Regions from separate parts of the Homo sapiens genome. Here regions 2 and 3 are each reported to be linked to region 1. The links are microRNA targets in miRTarBase. Many come from high-throughput screens and were not tested one by one. Region 1 holds a microRNA gene; each other region holds the end of a gene's coding sequence.
What was found. The annotated mature microRNA hsa-miR-6512-3p reads UUCCAGCCCUUCUAAUGGUAGG and lies in region 1 at 2,058-2,079, opposite strand. An mRNA with a match to its seed (bases 2 to 7 or 8) in the 3' UTR can be bound and repressed. Matches are read on the target gene's strand: a 7mer-m8 pairs with bases 2 to 8, a 7mer-A1 pairs with bases 2 to 7 and ends in A, and an 8mer does both.

Region 2: the mRNA of STEAP2 is a reported target of hsa-miR-6512-3p. Seed matches in the 3' UTR shown: 7mer-m8 at 2,792-2,798 and 7mer-A1 at 5,120-5,126.
Region 3: the mRNA of IMPACT is a reported target of hsa-miR-6512-3p. Seed matches in the 3' UTR shown: 7mer-m8 at 3,499-3,505.

The regions. Positions count from the first base shown.
Region 1 is chr2:177,311,754-177,318,959 of GRCh38, forward strand. It overlaps MIR6512 (microRNA 6512), which reads right to left and starts at 2,129; the gene lies at 2,053-2,129. All of the region lies in intron 6 of LOC100130691 (Putative uncharacterized protein FLJ44553), which reads right to left.
Region 2 is chr7:90,231,804-90,239,009 of GRCh38, forward strand. STEAP2 (STEAP2 metalloreductase) reads left to right here. Exons shown (of 6, transcript NM_001244944.2): 6 at 534-5,880. The coding sequence ends at 821. It overlaps LOC107986819 (a long non-coding RNA gene), which reads right to left. Exons shown (of 2, transcript XR_007060423.1): 2 at 5,784-7,206. Among named protein-coding and RNA genes, the nearest start is that of CFAP69, 9.8 kb to the right of the region's middle. RefSeq lists a silencer at 2,757-2,962.
Region 3 is chr18:24,449,340-24,456,545 of GRCh38, forward strand. It overlaps IMPACT (impact RWD domain protein), which reads left to right. Exons shown (of 11, transcript NM_018439.4): 10 at 480-614; 11 at 1,440-4,192. The coding sequence ends at 1,508. Among named protein-coding and RNA genes, the nearest start is that of HRH4, 7.7 kb to the right of the region's middle.

The DNA.
Region 1 (7,206 bases):
ATAACAGTTTCACAAGAAAACAGAAGAATACTCACGATTTTGGAATCCACAAAGATTTCTTAAACTGGAGACACACAAAATAAATAAGCCATAAAGGAAAACATCTGATAAACTAAACTAATTCAAAATTATGAATGTCTTCTTCAAAATACACTATTAAAAGAGTGAATAAAATAAGCCACAGAGTGGGCTGGGCACAGTGGCTCACGCCTGTAATCCCAGCACTTTGGGAGGCCGAAGCAGGCAGATCACAAGGTCAGGAGATTGAGACCATCCTGGCTCACATGGTGAAACCCCGTCTCTACTAAAAATACAAAAAATTAGCTGGGCATGGTGGCGGGCACCTGTAGTCCCAGCTACTTGGGAGGCTGAGGCAGGAGAATGGCGTGAACCCGGGAGGAGGAGCTTGCAGTGAGCCGAGATCACGCCACTGCACTCCAGCCTGGGTGACAGAGCAAGACTCCATCTCAAAAAAAAAAAACAAAAAACAAAAAGCCACATAGTGGCAAAAGATATTATCAATACATATACCCGACAAAGGACTCATATCCAGAATAAAGGACTATAAAAACAAGAAAAGGCAGACAAGCCCATAGAAAATCACACAAAACACATGAATAGGCATTTCACAGAAGAGGGTACCCAAATGGCCAATAAACAATTAAAAAGGTGTTTATTTGATATCAGAAAAATGAAAACAACAATGAGATTCAATACACTGCATTAGTCTTTGAAGAGAATGGCTAAAATTTAAAAGATGGAAAAGATCAAGTTTTGATGAAGATGTGAAAAACTGTTGGGCAGTACTACTCAAGCTGAACCCCATGCATCAGAGAAATTACACTTTTATATATCCAACTGAAATATGTGTGTGTGTGTGTGTTCACCAATGTTCACAGTGGCACTAGTTGCAGTAATCTCAAATTGGAAACAACCCAAATGTCCATCTTTGGTAGAACGTATAAATTGTGTTATATTCATACAATGGAATACTACACAGCAATGAAAATGAAGATACTATTATTACTCTCAACATGAATGAATCTCACAAATAGTTGAGTAGGAAAAGCCAGTAATAAAATAATACACACTGTATCATTCCATTTTGTCTAATGTTTAAAAATAGGCCAAATTGGTCTAGGGTATTAGAAGCCAAGATTACAGTCAATTTGAGGGAGGATAATGCCTAGAAAAGATAATGAAGGGAGCTTCTGGTATGGTAGTAGTTTCTGCCTCCCAATCTGGGTGCTAGCAATATGTAGGTGTGTTTACTTTATGAAAATTCATCAAGCTCTCTGATTATAATTTGTGCATTTTTCTGTCTGTATGCTATACTTCAATAAAGATAGATTTATACTGAGTTAGGAACAAAGCTCAATAACTATAATTCTAGGCTGAGCTGCTAATAGGATTTGTTAAACAATTTAAACTGTGCCAGTCAGATATAATGATGCGAAATTAGAAAGGTAAAAGGAAGAGAGAGGCTATTTCCCCTGCCTATTAGTTTTCCTTCCTTCCTTCCTTCCTCCCTTTTCTTTCTCTTCTTTCTCCTTCCTTCTTTCTCTTTCTCCTTCCTTCCTTCCTTCCTTTTCTTTCTCTTCTCCTTCCTTCCTTCCTTCCTCTTCTTTCCCTTCCTTCCTTTCTCTCTCTCTCTTTTTACCTTCCTCCTTCCCTCCCTCCTTCTCTCTCTCTATTTATTTATTTTTTGAGAAAGATTCTTGTTCTGTCCAGGCTGGAGTACAGTGGCACAATCACAACTCACTGCAGCCTAGACCTCCTGGGCTCAAGGATCCTCCCACCTCAGTGTCCCAAATGTTTGGGACTTCAGGCATGCACCAACATGCCTGGCTGCCTATTAGTTTTCACTGGTAGTTGTTGATGTACGTGCAACATTAAATGTGGTTTTTAATGACCAGACTTTCTGTGCCTCTGCATTGCCACTAACTTCATCTGTGAGAAATGACTGTGATGCCAGCAGTGGACTTTATAGCTTCCTGACCTCTAGATTGTAGCTGTGTGGACTGAACTGCGAGCCCAACAGCATCCCTCTTAATGCTCCTACCATTAGAAGGGCTGGAAGAAGGCATCTCCCTCAGCCTTCTTCCAGCTCTTCTAATGGTAAGAGCATATAATTTTTAAGCATATAATTCTTAGCATTCAGTACCTAGAGAAGTGTCTGCACTGAACCCCAACTGATATATCAGTTAATAACACAACTGATAGGTTATCTAGTAGGTTTATGGTTGGTTGTAAGAATCTTTGGGAAAGAAAATTACCATTGGCAATCCTACCACCTAGGATCATCATTATCATGGGAAAGTTCTGCTTTAGAGGCAACCTAAATCTATTTTGAGGTCCTGAAAATGCATTTACTTCACAGGATATGCTGGTTTCTGCTGCCATTCAAAAATTATTCTTAAGGCATTCTTTGTTCTCTTTTCACTAGCTAAATAATGCCGTGCTTTTAACTTTTCTTTATGTGTTCAGCAGCTTTTCCCAGTTGTGGATATTTGAAAAAAGTATTCATATAAATACTGCCTGTTCTGGTAGGATTAGCTGTCCCTTTCTTTTGGTTATATTCCCAAGTTCATTCTTGCTTATCTAACCAAAGCCCTACATTGCTGACTCAAGTTTAGTTTATGGTCCAAGCCCAGTATCATGTTACTATTAGCCAAGATTTCCCATGGGTTGAGGCAGACTTGTAGAAGATTGAAAAATAAAACTTACTGGCCATAAGTAAGACTTTTTATCTGGCCTTCCAGTACAGAACATTCTCTAATATAGCAGCTTATAAACAATGAGAATCAGAAGCCTAAAAAAATTAGTTAATAGCCAAACAGTGACTGAATCATGGAATTGTACAGTTAGAATGGACCTTAGAAGCAGTCTATATAAGCCAGGTATAGTGGCTCATGCCTGTAATCTCAGCACTTTGGGAGGCCAAGGCAGGAGGATCTCTTGAGCCCTGGAGTTTGAGACCAGCCTGGCCAAAATGGTGAGACCCCATCTCTACTAATTTTTTTAAAAAGTCTATATACATACCAGAACACAGAGCTCAGATATGTATGCAGGATTCCAGTCCGTGCTGAATACTCTTCCAGTATGAGTACTCTTCCTACTCCTCAAGGTGTGTGGCCCTCAAAGCAGCAGCATCAGCACTTACCTGGGAGCTTGTTAGAAAGCCAGAATCTCAGGCTCCAACACCCACTGAAGCAGAATTTGCATGTAACACCCCCACCCCTTCTTGATTTGTATGCATGTTGAAATTTGTGGAGTTAGAGACAAAAGCACCACAGGTGCATGTCTTACTATTTAAAGTCTTGCCTAATTATATAACATAGAAACCTGATCCCTTCTGGACAAGGCCTGTATTATTACAGGTCCTGGTCTAATAGAGTATTTGAATAGCTGGGTTAAAGAAAAAGAAAACTCTCTTTAATAATCTTTGGAAAAAGAGGACATTTATTTGAGCTATGCTAGTTTTTAATGTACCTATTCAGATTTTAATCCATTAGAAAAATTAATAGCCTATTTGGTAGTAGCATGTCCTGAAAAAATAAGCTGAATAAATTGAAAGTATTTAAATGGATATTTAAACTCTGCAGCCATCGGTGATTTAGTTTTCAATTACATAAAGGTAATTACACTAGAATCCACCTCATTCACCCTGCCGTGAGAAAATGCTGGAGTGTTGTAATAAGCCAATGCTTTCAGGCAGTGACTGGTCTCCACTCCTTTTTGGCTGGGACCTGAATTCATTTGCTTTAAGCAGTTTAGGGTGTATGCTAGGAATATAAATTATAGAAACACCCTTTGTGACCCTTTTTACAAATGAAGTTGCATCACTATGAAGGGTGTATGTGAGGCTATAGGCCCAGCCTCTCAGATTGGGAATAGCTGACACTGCATGCAGATTTGGCCTGCTAGGTAAAGGCGGGACGGTGGTTTAGGACAGTGCCCCAGCTGGGCTCTTCCTAGACCAGTGGTTCTTAAAGTGTGCCTGCAGAGGAGGCTTCGGGGGTGCTGGTAATGTTCTGTTTCTTGATCTGGGTGCTGGTTACATGGGTGTGTTCAGTTTAGGAAAAGCCACTGAGCTGTTCACTTACAATAAATACACCTTTCTATATGTATATTTCAATAAAAAGTGAAAAGTGCAGAAGGTTAGAGTGCATTAGAGCAGATTTCTGTCCTCCTGTCAATCACAGGTAGGTGGTCTGTGTCTCCTACTTTGAGAAACACTGCCCAGAGCAATCTAAAAGGCTACGATCAGGGAAAATTGATGAACACACTTCATTAACCCAGCATGTTCATTGAGATGGACAGGTAAAACCAAACAAATAATGCCTAATGCAGGGTATACTTGTTCTAGGTGTTACATAAATACATTCTTCTGGTTTTCCTAACATCTTTGAGAGGACAATATTAACTACATTTACAGATGAGGCAAATGGCACACATAGAAGAGGCTGAGCTGAGAGTCCATGACAGGTCTGTAGGACCAAAGTCTATTTTATTTTCACCAGCGCCACTACTGGGCAGCTTGAAGGAGCAAGTAAGTCACAAGGACAGATTGAGGGATTGAGAATGGACAGAGAAGAAACCTAGGCCTTTTTGCCAACATAGTAGATAGTCTTGAAGAACAGACTGCAAATAGGCAACTCTGGTCTTTTCAGAATCTCTGGCAAGCAGATGGCAGTTTCTCAGAGGCAATACCCCATGGCCAAACCCATAAGACCTCCAAGCATCTGCAGAGTCCTGAAATCCAAGTACAATCATGGGCAACACAACAACATTTCAGTTCAACTACGGACCTCTTATATGATGGTGGTTTCATGAGATTTGAATACTGTATTTTTACTGCACCTTTTCTATGTTAAGATATATTTAGATACACACATACTTACCATTGTATTACAATTACTTACAGTGTTCAGTACAGCAACATACTGTACAGGTTTGTAGCCTGGGAGCAATAGGCTATACCACATAGCCTAGGTGTGTAGTAGGCTATACCATCTAGGTTTGTGTAATCACACTCTATGATGGTTCTACAATGAAGAAATTACCTAATGACACATTTTTCAGAACAAATCCCTGTCATTAAGCAATGCATGACTGCATTCTGGACTATGACCCAAATATGACTGGACATCAGAATCACCTTGGGAAGGTTTCAAACATACAGATTTACAGGCTCCACACCAGAGATCTAAATTTAGTAGGTTTGGAATGAGGCCTGAAAAGTTCTTTACAAACCACCCCAGGTAATTCTGATGACAAGCTTGGCTTGGGAAACACTACCCCAGCCACACTGACTCCATGAAAGAGTCAGACCTGGATTGACCTTGGTAGTAGTTCATCACAAGCCAAATGGAGGGAAGTAAAGGGCCCGTTATAAGATGCCCTCAAACTGAATAAATGTAACCAGATATCAAGACAAAAAACAAAGCAGAATAAAAGAAAACTTGCTTTCATAAGATGGAAACTTGTGACTAGTTTAGGCCTGCAAATAAAAGGCCTGCACTTGTGTCCCATGCATTACGTGTAACTTGTTTTCTTCCCTCCAGCCTGTTCACAAGGAAATCATGGCATCTAAAGTTTGTTTTACTAAAAAGCATTATAAAATAAATCATAAACAATATAGCACTTTGATATCTTAGATCTCAATATGAAATCCTTGGTCTAGGGTGTTTTTAGTTTAGAAGTTTGAGAATTTTGAAGACAGCAAAAATGGACTTTGCAAAATTTAAGGAGACAATATTGCAAAGATAACAAGATCCAAGGACACTCTCTTCCTTCTCCCATCAACCTGAACTGGTTTATTCTAGATTTAAACTATGAACTTTAATAACCTAGACTTCAATTTGACCCTAGTGTTCAGTGGTGAAAGTACATAGGTGATTATGTACAGTCAATAACTACCCTATCTCATCTGTCAAGTAGAATAAATAGCTAAAACTGGTAAGTTGATAAAGTGTTTTTATTTTGGAGAGTTAATAACTTACTCTAAAGTAGATTTTAATTACTAGACCTTGCTAACAACTGACATATGAATTAATTACTTTAAATCACTATCAAGTTCAATCTCCATACAAGTTTCAAGGAGAACTGCACAGCACTCAAACATAAAGGAAATATTAATGACATAAATGATGGAACACAATCAAGTCTATTATTCATTAGTATGAATGAAAACAAAATACAGTGAGCGATAAAGACAGACTAGAACTAATATCATTTGGGTTTACAAAAACCATCTCAAGTCCAAACATGTTCTTGTCCAAAGTCCTTGCCTCATTTCAGGAAACAACCCCATGCCTCACTTGTGAGATTAGAGTACCATGTTTTCTTTCTTTCCACATGTGGAAGTGGGGTAAAGAGATGTTTTGGCCAAAAAATACATTCTAGACCCAAACACTAGAGATATGATCAATCTCCAGGAATTTTATAAAAAGGTAATGTTGTATTTCTGGATAAAAGGGAAAAAATGAGCACAAAAAGGATACATTAGACCACATATCCAGAGATTAAGGAGACCCTCTGTGTATCCTCAGTTTCCCAGCTTATTTAGTTTTGTGTTTCCCGTCTTGGTGAAATACCTTTGAAGGGAAAGCATGCTTTTATCTGCAAATAGAGTTTATTAACTAGCTCTGGGGGCATTAACTAGCTCTGGGGGAACAAACAATTTTGAAAGTAAATTCTACTTTGAACTTTTTGACTTGAATCATTGTAATCTGAGATGTGACCTATAACTTATCCTTTTAGAAAATAAATTATAAATATCACAGAAGAGGTATTTTAGCAACTCATACACCTTCACATCTACAGTCAACTTATTTTTGACAAGGGTGCCAAGATAATCCAGTGAGGAAGAACTAGCCTTCTCAACAAGTGGTTCTGGATAATTGGATATCACATGCAAAAGAATGAAGTTGGATTTTTACCTCACACCCAATATAAAAAATTAACACAAAAAGATCAAAGACCTAAATGTAAGCACTAAAATGATAAAAATCTAGAAAACATAGACATAACTCTTTGTGGCCTTGGATTGTGCAATGGTTTTTTGATATGAGATCAAACACACAAGCAACAAAAGAAAACATACACACTTGACTTCATCAAAACGTAAAACTTCTATTCCTAAAAGGACACCAGCAAGAAACCTACAGAATGGGAGGAAATAGTTGCAAATCACCTATCTAA
Region 2 (7,206 bases), not on the chromosome of region 1:
GAAGAGTCTAGCAGTATGTATCAGTACCCTTAAGGAAAAGCTAGATGTTTTGACCAATAATCCTACTATTAGAAACCAGTCCTAAGAAAATAAATCAAAATATGGAAAATGGCCTAACATGACATTTATAGTTGAGGAAAGTTGGAAACAGTGAATTATCAACAAAAAGGAATGGTTTAATAAATTATGCACATCCATTCAATAGAATATTATACAGTATTAATGTCATTTTCATATTTAATGACATGAGGAAAATGTTCTTGATAAAATAAATGAAGTAGTAAGAATATTAAACTGTATGCAGTAGGGCCTTATTTGTGTAACATAAGGTGTGCATATAAATAATACATATATATGCATATATAAAAATATTAATATTATTTAATTCAGTAGAGGACAAAGGTTAACTTGATAATTTAAGACAAAATAGTTTTATCAAAATATAAACATGGTGTATCTTGATAGTTTAATTTATGAGTTTCAGTCATTTGTTTCTTATTCTTTGTTTCTTTTCCTTCCTCTCCTGGCCCAAGTCTACACTTGGATATGTCGCTCTGCTCATAAGTACTTTCCATGTTTTAATTTATGGATGGAAACGAGCTTTTGAGGAAGAGTACTACAGATTTTATACACCACCAAACTTTGTTCTTGCTCTTGTTTTGCCCTCAATTGTAATTCTGGGTAAGATTATTTTATTCCTTCCATGTATAAGCCGAAAGCTAAAACGAATTAAAAAAGGCTGGGAAAAGAGCCAATTTCTGGAAGAAGGTATGGGAGGAACAATTCCTCATGTCTCCCCGGAGAGGGTCACAGTAATGTGATGACAAATGGTGTTCACAGCTGCCATATAAAGTTCTACTCATGCCATTATTTTTATGACTTCTACGTTCAGTTACAAGTATGCTGTCAAATTATCGTGGGTTGAAACTTGTTAAATGAGATTTCAACTGACTTAGTGATAGAGTTTTCTTCAAGTTAATTTTCACAAATGTCATGTTTGCCAATATGAATTTTTCTAGTCAACATATTATTGTAATTTAGGTATGTTTTGTTTTGTTTTGCACAACTGTAACCCTGTTGTTACTTTATATTTCATAATCAGGCAAAAATACTTACAGTTAATAATATAGATATAATGTTAAAAACAATTTGCAAACCAGCAGAATTTTAAGCTTTTAAAATAATTCAATGGATATACATTTTTTTCTGAAGATTAAGATTTTAATTATTCAACTTAAAAAGTAGAAATGCATTATTATACATTTTTTTAAGAAAGGACACGTTATGTTAGCATCTAGGTAAGGCTGCATGATAGCATTCCTATATTTCTCTCATAAAATAGGATTTGAAGGATGAAATTAATTGTATGAAGCAATGTGATTATATGAAGAGACACAAATTAAAAAGACAAATTAAACCTGAAATTATATTTAAAATATATTTGAGACATGAAATACATACTGATAATACATACCTCATGAAAGATTTTATTCTTTATTGTGTTACAGAGCAGTTTCATTTTCATATTAATATACTGATCAGGAAGAGGATTCAGTAACATTTGGCTTCCAAAACTGCTATCTCTAATACGGTACCAATCCTAGGAACTGTATACTAGTTCCTACTTAGAACAAAAGTATCAAGTTTGCACACAAGTAATCTGCCAGCTGACCTTTGTCGCACCTTAACCAGTCACCACTTGCTATGGTATAGGATTATACTGATGTTCTTTGAGGGATTCTGATGTGCTAGGCATGGTTCTAAGTACTTTACTTGTATTATCCCATTTAATACTTAGAACAACCCCGTGAGATAAGTAGTTATTATCCTCATTTTACACATGAGGGACCGAAGGATAGAAAAGTTATTTTTCAAAGGTCTTGCAGTTAATAAATGGCAGAGTGAGCATTCAAGTCCAGGTAGTCATATTCCAGAGGCCACGGTTTTAACCACTAGGCTCTAGAGCTCCCGCCGCGCCCCTATGCATTATGTTCACAATGCCAATCTAGATGCTTCCTCTTTTGTATAAAGTCACTGACATTCTTTAGAGTGGGTTGGGTGCATCCAAAAATGTATAAAAATATTATTATAATAAACTTATTACTGCTTGTAGGGTAATTCACAGTTACTTACCCTATTCTTGCTTGGAACATGAGCCTGGAGACCCATGGCAGTCCATATGCCTCCCTATGCAGTGAAGGGCCCTAGCAGTGTTAACAAATTGCTGAGATCCCACGGAGTCTTTCAAAAATCTCTGTAGAGTTAGTCTTCTCCTTTTCTCTTCCTGAGAAGTTCTCCTGCCTGCATAACCATTCATTAGGGAGTACTTTACAAGCATGAAGGATATTAGGGTAAGTGGCTAATTATAAATCTACTCTAGAGACATATAATCATACAGATTATTCATAAAATTTTTCAGTGCTGTCCTTCCACATTTAATTGCATTTTGCTCAAACTGTAGAATGCCCTACATTCCCCCCACCCCAATTTGCTATTTCCTTATTAAAATAGAAAATTATAGGCAAGATACAATTATATGCGTTCCTCTTCCTGAAATTATAACATTTCTAAACTTACCCACGTAGGTACTACTGAATCCAACTGCCAACAATAAAAAGACTTTTATTTAGTAGAGGCTACCTTTCCCACCAGTGACTCTTTTTCTACAACTGCCTTGTCAGTTTGGTAATTCACTTATGATTTTCTAATGTTCTCTTGGTGAATTTTATTATCTTGTACCCTCTTTTTTTTTTTTTTTTTTTTTAAAGACAGAGTCTTGCTCTGTCACCCAGGCTGGAGTGCAGTGGCACGATCTCGGCTCACTGCAAGCTCTGCCTCCCGGGTTCACGCCATTCTCCTGCCTCAGCCTCCCGAGTAGCTGGGACTACAGGTGCCCGCCACCATGCCCGGCTGATTTCTTTTTGTATTTTTAGTAGAGACGGAGTTTCACCGTGTTAGCCAGGATGGTCTCGATCTCCTGACCTCGTGATCCGCCCGCCTTGGCCTCCAAAGTGCTGGGATTACAGGTGTGAGCTACCGCGCCCGGCCTATTATCTTGTACTTTCTAACTGAGCCCTCTATTTTCTTTATTTTAATAATATTTCTCCCCACTTGAGAATCACTTGTTAGTTCTTGGTAGGAATTCAGTTGGGCAATGATAACTTTTATGGGCAAAAACATTCTATTATAGTGAACTAATGAAAATAACAGCGTATTTTCAATATTTTCTTATTCCTTAAATTCCACTCTTTTAACACTATGCTTAACCACTTAATGTGATGAAATATTCCTAAAAGTTAAATGACTATTAAAGCATATATTGTTGCATGTATATATTAAGTAGCCGATACTCTAAATAAAAATACCACTGTTACAGATAAATGGGGCCTTTAAAAATATGAAAAACAAACTTGTGAAAATGTATAAAAGATGCATCTGTTGTTTCAAATGGCACTATCTTCTTTTCAGTACTACAAAAACAGAATAATTTTGAAGTTTTAGAATAAATGTAATATATTTACTATAATTCTAAATGTTTAAATGCTTTTCTAAAAATGCAAAACTATGATGTTTAGTTGCTTTATTTTACCTCTATGTGATTATTTTTCTTAATTGTTATTTTTTATAATCATTATTTTTCTGAACCATTCTTCTGGCCTCAGAAGTAGGACTGAATTCTACTATTGCTAGGTGTGAGAAAGTGGTGGTGAGAACCTTAGAGCAGTGGAGATTTGCTACCTGGTCTGTGTTTTGAGAAGTGCCCCTTAGAAAGTTAAAAGAATGTAGAAAAGATACTCAGTCTTAATCCTATGCAAAAAAAAAAATCAAGTAATTGTTTTCCTATGAGGAAAATAACCATGAGCTGTATCATGCTACTTAGCTTTTATGTAAATATTTCTTATGTCTCCTCTATTAAGAGTATTTAAAATCATATTTAAATATGAATCTATTCATGCTAACATTATTTTTCAAAACATACATGGAAATTTAGCCCAGATTGTCTACATATAAGGTTTTTATTTGAATTGTAAAATATTTAAAAGTATGAATAAAATATATTTATAGGTATTTATCAGAGATGATTATTTTGTGCTACATACAGGTTGGCTAATGAGCTCTAGTGTTAAACTACCTGATTAATTTCTTATAAAGCAGCATAACCTTGGCTTGATTAAGGAATTCTACTTTCAAAAATTAATCTGATAATAGTAACAAGGTATATTATACTTTCATTACAATCAAATTATAGAAATTACTTGTGTAAAAGGGCTTCAAGAATATATCCAATTTTTAAATATTTTAATATATCTCCTATCTGATAACTTAATTCTTCTAAATTACCACTTGCCATTAAGCTATTTCATAATAAATTCTGTACAGTTTCCCCCCAAAAAAGAGATTTATTTATGAAATATTTAAAGTTTCTAATGTGGTATTTTAAATAAAGTATCATAAATGTAATAAGTAAATATTTATTTAGGAATACTGTGAACACTGAACTAATTATTCCTGTGTCAGTCTATGAAATCCCTGTTTTGAAATACGTAAACAGCCTAAAATGTGTTGAAATTATTTTGTAAATCCATGACTTAAAACAAGATACATACATAGTATAACACACCTCACAGTGTTAAGATTTATATTGTGAAATGAGACACCCTACCTTCAATTGTTCATCAGTGGGTAAAACAAATTCTGATGTACATTCAGGACAAATGATTAGCCCTAAATGAAACTGTAATAATTTCAGTGGAAACTCAATCTGTTTTTACCTTTAAACAGTGAATTTTACATGAATGAATGGGTTCTTCACTTTTTTTTTAGTATGAGAAAATTATACAGTGCTTAATTTTCAGAGATTCTTTCCATATGTTACTAAAAAATGTTTTGTTCAGCCTAACATACTGAGTTTTTTTTAACTTTCTAAATTATTGAATTTCCATCATGCATTCATCCAAAATTAAGGCAGACTGTTTGGATTCTTCCAGTGGCCAGATGAGCTAAATTAAATCACAAAAGCAGATGCTTTTGTATGATCTCCAAATTGCCAACTTTAAGGAAATATTCTCTTGAAATTGTCTTTAAAGATCTTTTGCAGCTTTGCAGATACCCAGACTGAGCTGGAACTGGAATTTGTCTTCCTATTGACTCTACTTCTTTAAAAGCGGCTGCCCATTACATTCCTCAGCTGTCCTTGCAGTTAGGTGTACATGTGACTGAGTGTTGGCCAGTGAGATGAAGTCTCCTCAAAGGAAGGCAGCATGTGTCCTTTTTCATCCCTTCATCTTGCTGCTGGGATTGTGGATATAACAGGAGCCCTGGCAGCTGTCTCCAGAGGATCAAAGCCACACCCAAAGAGTAAGGCAGATTAGAGACCAGAAAGACCTTGACTACTTCCCTACTTCCACTGCTTTTTCCTGCATTTAAGCCATTGTAAATCTGGGTGTGTTACATGAAGTGAAAATTAATTCTTTCTGCCCTTCAGTTCTTTATCCTGATACCATTTAACACTGTCTGAATTAACTAGACTGCAATAATTCTTTCTTTTGAAAGCTTTTAAAGGATAATGTGCAATTCACATTAAAATTGATTTTCCATTGTCAATTAGTTATACTCATTTTCCTGCCTTGATCTTTCATTAGATATTTTGTATCTGCTTGGAATATATTATCTTCTTTTTAACTGTGTAATTGGTAATTACTAAAACTCTGTAATCTCCAAAATATTGCTATCAAATTACACACCATGTTTTCTATCATTCTCATAGATCTGCCTTATAAACATTTAAATAAAAAGTACTATTTAATGATTTAACTTCTGTTTTGAAATGTTGTATACACGTGGATTTTTTTCTCATTAAATAATAATTCTAGTATTTGATGGAGGCCTTCTAATACTTTTCTGAGTTATTTCTTTTCAGAAGCATCCAGAAAGCAATACATGTGATAGTTATGGAGGGGTTTTGTTTGTTTTTACTAAAATAGTCATTTAGAAAAACCTCCATTTACATTTATTTTATTACATTATTTCATTTTACTAGCATTCATTAAGCATCTTTAAATCAGAACACACACAATATTCAAGCTATTCTGTAAACTCCCCGTAGCAGAAATTTTGTCTTATTTACTACTAAATCCCCAGTATCTAGTATAATGTGATCTATGATGGATACTAAAGAGATATTATAATAAATAATTACCCATTTTTACAGAAAATTATGTTTTTTATCATCCCGCATCCATGCAGCCATGCCTACATCCTCTTGCCTCTTCCTCATGCCTTGCCTCCTGGCCAGTGGCCTAGCGCTACCCTGTTGTCCTAAAGAGTTTCTGCTGCTGCTGCCACTACCACCACCACCACACTGCTATATGTTGAGGAGTCCTGTACACTGTGCCACTGACAAGGAGTAACTGACCTTTGTGCCTGTGCACCAGATCTGTCTGTGGAGGTTCTGGCTTCCCCAGCTGCTGCCTGGAAATGCTTAGGTGCTAATATCCTGAGAGGAGGATTGTCAGGTAAAATACAGGACTCTCAGTTAAATTTGAATTGCAGACAAACAATAAATTACTTTTTATTATAAGCATGGGCTTTTTAAAATTTTTCTAAATCTGGCAACCCTACTTAAGGAGTGAACTTTGATCAAGGAGGTACAGCACAAAATGAAGCTAGTAGATAAATTCTCCCTTCCTTTCCCCCAGATAGGCTGTTCTAAAGTGCAATAATTCATAAGACCTTCATGAAAATATCCTCAAAGACCGAGCAATTAACTGCACTTGTTGCAAAGCTATGACAAGCTCACTAACACCTGTGTTTGTGTTCCCTTCTCCTACTGCCTCACTTCCATGTTTTTCCTCACTTCTGTTTCTCAGAGATAGTACTCCCCATAGAGTGGCAGCAGGTGAGTGTTGGTGTTGTTTGTTTATGGCAGGCTTGGGGAACCTAGACTAGTACAGTACTTTTGGTAGTGGATTCTTCTAATGGGAAGTGAAACAAGAGACAAATGATGACTTTGAGAAAGTCAGGCACGGGACCCTGCAGACTCAAAATCCAGATTTGTTGAGACCCCTGAGAGTAGAAAAACCCCTCAGGGGCAGATTCACATTGATCAAATGTACAGTCATACACTGTTAAATCAAAATAGTAACTCAGCACTACTGTGTGAAATATCAGTGTCCTGTAGGCGAGAATACCATTTGTGCCTTGATT
Region 3 (7,206 bases), not on the chromosome of region 1:
TGGGTGACAGAGTGAGACTGATCTAGATCTCAACTGATGAAACCTTACTAATAGCACCAGGGATATTGATGCCTCGTGCAGCCCCTGTAGCTTTGTTCAGAAGCAGGGTTTTTTTTGTTGTTATTTGGCCTAGTGGTAAAATGCTGCCTAAACTTAGCTGTTCTGGTTGAAGTCACCAGGTGCTAGAATCCTACTTGCATGGTCTCCCCTTCACTCTGTCCAGTTGCCCCAAATCTGGGAGTTTGAGGACATTGTGAAACACAGTGATGGTTTTCCAGATTCCCTTCTGTTCTTCCATTTCACTCCCTGAATTGTTAGTAATCTCACTCAGTGCCTACTCACTCATATGGCTCTACCATTAAAGTCACTGGGAAATTTTATGTGCAATTTTATACATGGGTTATTTCATTCTCCTTTTTTAAAACTCATATTTATACATGTCTGTCTATGTATCTAATTATGCTTCCAAAAAATAACAGATTTTGAATGTGAAGAATGTCATGGTGGTAGTATCACGCTGGTATGGAGGGATTCTGCTAGGACCAGATCGCTTTAAACATATCAACAACTGTGCCAGAAACATACTAGTGGAAAAGAACTACACAAATTCACCTGTAAGTGGCTCTTCGTACTACATCTAGAGAATTTCTCATCACTGCCTGGGAATTTTTTAAAAAGACAGAAAATTAAGAATGAATCAGAATGTGAGTGGTGAATTGGTAAAACCTTTGGACTCAGAACCTGGAGACCTAGACTCTAAACAGTGTGTCTGGCCAGTCACGTGACTTTGGACCGATCACTTAATCCCTTCGCACCTTGATTTCATAGGACAGACCACTTCATCCCTTCGCACCTTGATTTCATAGGTTCATAGAATTTTATAATTAGAAAAACCTTTTAAGACCAACTAGGTTCCATCCCTAAAATTGAGCCCCAGAGTGGTTGTAGCTGATATCACATCAGACTAGATGTTCTTTAAACATCTAGAAAATTCTGAAATTCTCTGTTAGTGTCAAAACATCTCCCCCTTCACTGGCATACCTTTAGATGCTTTCTTCCTTTATACTTTGAGTTTATTTTGTTTTATATTTTAGGTATGTTCATATCTGCCTTATTTAAATTTTACTGCCTTGGGAAAGTGGGGCAATAGATGAAATAATTTTGAAATTATTCAAACATAAATCCACTAGATAAATAAGGTTTCCTTGATTATTCTTGATTGTTTAAAAAATATTAGCCTATAAGTGAAAGTACCCTTTAAAACACAGAAATGACACATATAAAAGTGATTATACCCTCACTGTAACATATATACATACATACATATATGTATGAATATATGTGGAATATATATGTGTAAATATATTCTAAGTGATTAGATTGAAGATTTCATCTTTATGTAAATGGAGAGATGCTGCACTGATTTGTGTCTTTTTCAGGAGGAGTCATCTAAGGCTTTGGGAAAGAACAAAAAAGTAAGAAAAGACAAGAAGAGGAATGAACATTAATACCTGAAACTATAGGAAAGGTTAATTTGCCTATAATTATATATACATTCCATAGTCATCAAGGAATATATTGTGCAGAGAGAGTATCCTTGACTGCTTAAGTCAGCCAGTTCAGCATGGATACCAACATTAGCTTTTCTTCTTGGTTATATCATCTGCCAAAAATAGAGAACTTATGATCTATTCATGTGTGTTTCAGGCTTATTTGGGAGAACTAATTTGAACTTAATCACCACTTCATCTAATTTTAGCAAGGTAACAGTTGCCCAGGGCAGTACCTGAATTAACTGTCCATTTCAGTACATGTCAAGTGCCTTTGTTAGGTGGAGAAGAAATGTCTCTAGAGGAATATAAATACCTGATTTCTTGTCATCGAGATTCTTGTACTGTTAAATGAATATTGCCTTTTACTGCTCTTTATGGCTTATTGGAATAGGAGCTCATTTAAGATTGATCTTGGAGAGTTTCTTCTTGTGATTTTAGTTCATAAGTATGTCACCTTTCATTTTATAGTGTTCATCATTGAGTAATGGATTAAGTGAAAATCCAGGAGTATCCATCTGCAGTTATGTGCTGAGGTGATAATTCATCCAACATATTTGTTAGCATAAATATTATGCTTCAGTTTCTGTTGCAAATTGGTGATTGTGAAATTACAGAAAGTGATTTTCTAGTCTGCTTTTTTTGTTTAATTCTTGTAATGTAAGCAATAAATATGGAGTGTCAGTAGTCTCCTTCCACCCCAGAAATGTGTTGGTGTAACATTCTCGTTTCTTTTAACAACCTGGAAGTACCTTTCTTGTGATCTTCACTGAGGAATTAGAACTATGATAGAAGTTAGGCTGTGGCAAATGGGACATTCGTAGAGTGGGATAGAGGTGGCAGAATGAACCTGGTGTAGGGCAGGAGTATGTTGTGTAGTTACATCAATTTGATGCATGCTTTCCATCTGCACTCCAGACGGCTTTCTCAGTTCCAAGATTTTGCAGAGAGAAGGAGCAAACCTTTTCATTGGAAAAACAGAAACAACCCTCCCCCCCATTTTTTCCCCTCTATTCATCAAACCTTTATGTATCTTTCATCTTCCAGTTACCTCTAGGCATTTAGATAGTGAAATTTACCTTTGAGATATAACAATAAGTGATTAACTGTTCACTTTCAGATGTAATGGCAAACAATTGTTAAAAGTTATTAACTGATCACAGATTTGCCTGGACTTCCCTTCCCAGGGAGGGAACAGAAGTTAGGAGGCAACTTTGGGATGGTGCTAGAGCATGGAAAGCACAGAGAATTGGACAAACAGGTCTTTTTCTCTTTTCTCTGATGTTTTACCTTTAAAAGATCCAACATCCTTACCGTTGGTATTTTTAGTAAGGTTATAGTAAATAGCTTTACACCAGGATGGATTCTGAAATATAAATTCTAAATTATATTTGTTATAACTATATTTTATGTTGTATGTTATCAGGAGCCATCAGAGAATGACCTTTTTGTGTTTGGAACACTTGGTTCCATGAAAAGTATGCTTTGTGTTTTAACTGTTAAAATAATTTAAAAATTAATTATTTTACATAATTAAAGAAGTTAAAAACTATTAACATTAAATAATTTCACAATTTCAACATGTCAAACCTATGAAGGGAGATAGGAAACAATGAGAAACTTACTTTTGCTCCTTTATACAGAATTATTAACTATATTTTACTAACTAAAAAACTCTAGTATTCTTTACCTAAAGTCAATTGGCTGGTAAGAGGGAGAGATGCAAAATTCTCCAGCTCTGAACTTGGAGCTACTTCACACTCTACTCTTAATGGAAACTTGAACTAATGATAGATAGTATTTTTTTCCTCTATTTAAAATTTTTGTCTTGATTAGGAGATTTTTCAGTTCTCCATATAATAATTTTCTACAATCAGATCTATGCTGTGGCATATTTTGCTTTATTTAAAAATTTTTTTTTAGAGATGAGTTCTTGCTCTGTCACCTAGGCTGGAGTGCAGTGGCATGATCATGGCTCACTGCAGCCTTGACCTTCCAGCCTGCCAAGTAGCTGGGATTACAGACAGGCATGTGCTATTACACCTGGCTAATTTTTAAAGTTTTTTTTGTAAAGATAGGGTCTTTCTATGTTGCCCAGGCTCGTCTTGAGCTCCTGGCCTCAATCGATCTTCCTGCCAAGGTTTTGGAATTACAGGTGTGAGCCACCATGCCTGGCCTGCTTTGACATATTTTATAGTGTGTTAATTACAAATAGTCTTCATATGCCAGAATATAAGAGCAAGTGTTATCTACTTTTTAGATGGGAATTGCAGAAGCTGCATCAAAAGTATGCTTTGAGGTATATATAGTGAAACAGAGCCTTTCTGAAGAGAATTATATCAAACTAATTACAACCAAGAAATAATAGTATGAAGCGGATGCTGTTTGGAGGACAGGAAAATTTATCGGGAAAATTACATAATCCCTCTGATTCCACTATCCAGAGATAGCCATTATTATTAATATTTGGTATGTACATCCTTATATTATTTTTTTCTTATGCATGATTTTGTATATATGGTTATTTTTCTTTCCATAAAAATGGTATTAAACTGTATATACTGTTTTGTAGCCTACATATTTCATATAGAAGTATATTGTTAACATTTTCCATGTCAATAAATATTCTTCTATGGCTTAAATGTCTTATGACTGCATTGTATTCTGTCTTCTCAGTATTATACTAACTAGTCCTCCACTTATTTCCAATTTTTAAGTTTTTTTCAACTTTTCACTGTTATAAACAACTGTGAAAACCTACATCATTTGCAGATTTTTGTATGTATCTTTGATTATTTCTTTAGGAAAAGCTCCTAGATATCGAATTTCTTGGTCAAGGTTTGTACATTCTAATAGCTTTTGATTAGTTGAGTCAGATTGTCATCCAGGAAAGTGTTATCAGTGATTGCTCCATTAATATTGTGTTGGAATATTTAATACCAGCCAAAGATGGGAAAAAATAGGCAGTTTGCTTGATAACTCCCAAGATCCTTTTTAAAAAAGTAAACTTTTTGGCCAGGCACAGTGTCTCACGTCTGTAATCCCAGCATTTTGGGTGGCTGAGGCAGGCGGATCACTTGAGGTCAGGAGGTTGAGACCAGCCTGACCAACATGGTCAAACCTGTCTCTACTAAAAATACAAAAAAAATTAGCTGGGTGTGGTGGCGGGCACCTGTAATCCCAGCTACTCAGGGGGGCTGAGGCAGGAATATCACTTGAACCCGGGAGGCAGAGATTGCAGTGAGCCCACATCGTGCCTTTGCACTCCAGCCTGGCGACAAGAGTGAAACTCCATCTCAAAAAAAAAAAAAACAACCTTCTTGCCTTGAAATAATTGTAGCCTCACAAGAAGTTACAAAAATAGTAGGTCCTGTGTACCCATCACTGAGCCTCCACTGACAGTAGTATAACTATAGTAAAATTGCAAAACCAGGAAATAGTTTGATTACGATTCTTTTATCAGATAAATGATTTCCAAATATTTTCTCCCAGTCTGTGGCTTGTCTTTTCATTCTCTTAGCAGTGTATTTTGCAGAGTAAAGTTGTTAATTTTGATGAGATCTAATTATCTTTTTTTTTCCTCTTTTTTGGATCATTCTTTTTGATGCAACATCTAAGGACTTTGCCTAACCCCAGGTCTAGATTTTCTTCTGTTTTTAAAGTTACATCATTTTGTGTTTTTCTTGTAGATCTATTTTCCATTTTTAGTTTTTACATAAGGTGTGAGATTAAAGTCAAAGTTTTTTTTGTTTTGTTTTTTGCTTATGGATGTCCAGTTATGGAAGTGACTAGTTTTTGTAAATTGAACTTTTTTTTTTGAGACAGGGTCTTGCTCTGTTGCCCAGGCTGGAGTGCAGTGGCCTGATCATGGCTCACTGCAGTCTTGACTTCCCTGGCTCAAGCGATCCTCCCACCTCAACATCCCGAGTAGCTGAGACTACAGGTGCATGCTACCACACCAGGCTAATTTTTATATGTTTTGTAGGGATGGGGTTTCACCATGTTGCCCAGGCTGGTCTCTGTCTCCTGAGCTCAAATGATCTTGGCTCACTGCAACCTCCACCTCCTGGCTTCAAGTGATTCTCATGTCTCAGCCACATGAGTAGTTGAGACTACAGGCACGTGCCACCAGGCCTGGCTAATTTTTGTATTTTTGGTAGAGATTGGCTTTCACTATGTTGGCCAGGCTGGCCTTGAACCCCTGACCTAAAGTGATCCACCCTCCTCGGCCTCCCAAAGTGCTGGGATTACAGGCGAGAGCCACTGTGCCTGGCCTCTAAATGGACTTTGATTTGGGTATACCATAATGCTTCCCATACCCATCCACATAGAATTCCTGATTTTTCATTCTCAGTACTTGAGCCTGCAAATTAGATTTCATCATTTTCCTTTCTCAGTGATCCAAGTATCTCAATTGTTCCTCCATCTCTTTATGGCTTTCCATCCCCAATAACAGGAACAAGAGCTATTTTTGTACATAATGTTTTGACAGATGGGACATGCTGAAGATGAACGTCTTCCATCATATCCCAGTACCTTCTTTAAACTTTCATTATCACAATCAATGGTTACACAATGTTCATTTAGACTAATGGTAATCAGTGTTTTCCAGATTCAACTGGATATGTATTCCGTAGTTTGCTTCCCAATTCAGGTTTTCAACCATAGCTCTATCCTATGAAATGGAAACCAAAGGACATAGTCATATCTGTATTGTTCCAGATAGTTGTAGTCAGAGTTGCTATCTGCTCATCCATTTTGAGGATGAAGACCACTCTCAGAAGTGTATGTTTCATTCATTGAGTTGGCTTCTGTACTGCTTACTTCTTGATTCTTCAGAAAGAGGTTTTGGAAAACTGAATCCTTTACTGCAAGGGGCACTGAGTGAAAGTTAAAAGAGAATATTATTCTTTTGCTCTGAGATTCTCTCAAGGCACCAAAATTATATTAGATTTTCCCTTTTGTAACTACCCTTCCCTCAGCAACAATTTCACCTTTCTTCCTTTTATCATTAATTTAAATCCAAACCTTTCCCTCTAAAGTAGGTCCCACTGGTTGTCACTGGACTAGCCCATATTTTTGGTAGCAAGATGAGATATTCCAGGGTTTCCCTTTGGGGTCATTCCCAATAATAGGGGATCACACTGGATAAATATGAAGAAAGGGTACTATCCTTCCATGAAGCAACAAAACATTTGCATAGTCAGCCCCAGCTTGGCAAAGTGCAGGGAACAGATAATCCATACCATCAATCTCTTTGGAATTTTTGCATTTAGGTTCAAATTAATATATATATTACCTTGTTTTGGAATATTATATGATTTTGGGATTCTTTTTTTTTTTTTGAGATGGAGTCTCACTCTGTCACTCAGGCTGGAGTGCAGTAGTGTGATCTCAGCTTACTGCAACCTCCGCCTCCCGGGTTCAAACGATTCTCCTGCCTCAGCCTCCCAAGTAGCTGGGATTACAGGTGCATGTCACCACGCCTGGCTAATTTTGTATTTTTAGTAGAGACAGGGTTTCACCGTGTTAGCCAGGATGGTCTCAATCTCCTGACCTTGCAATCTGCCTGCCTTGGCCTCACAAAGTACTGGGATTACAGGCGTGAGCCACCATGCCCGACGTGGATTTTGGGATTCTTAATGGTAGCCCTGGT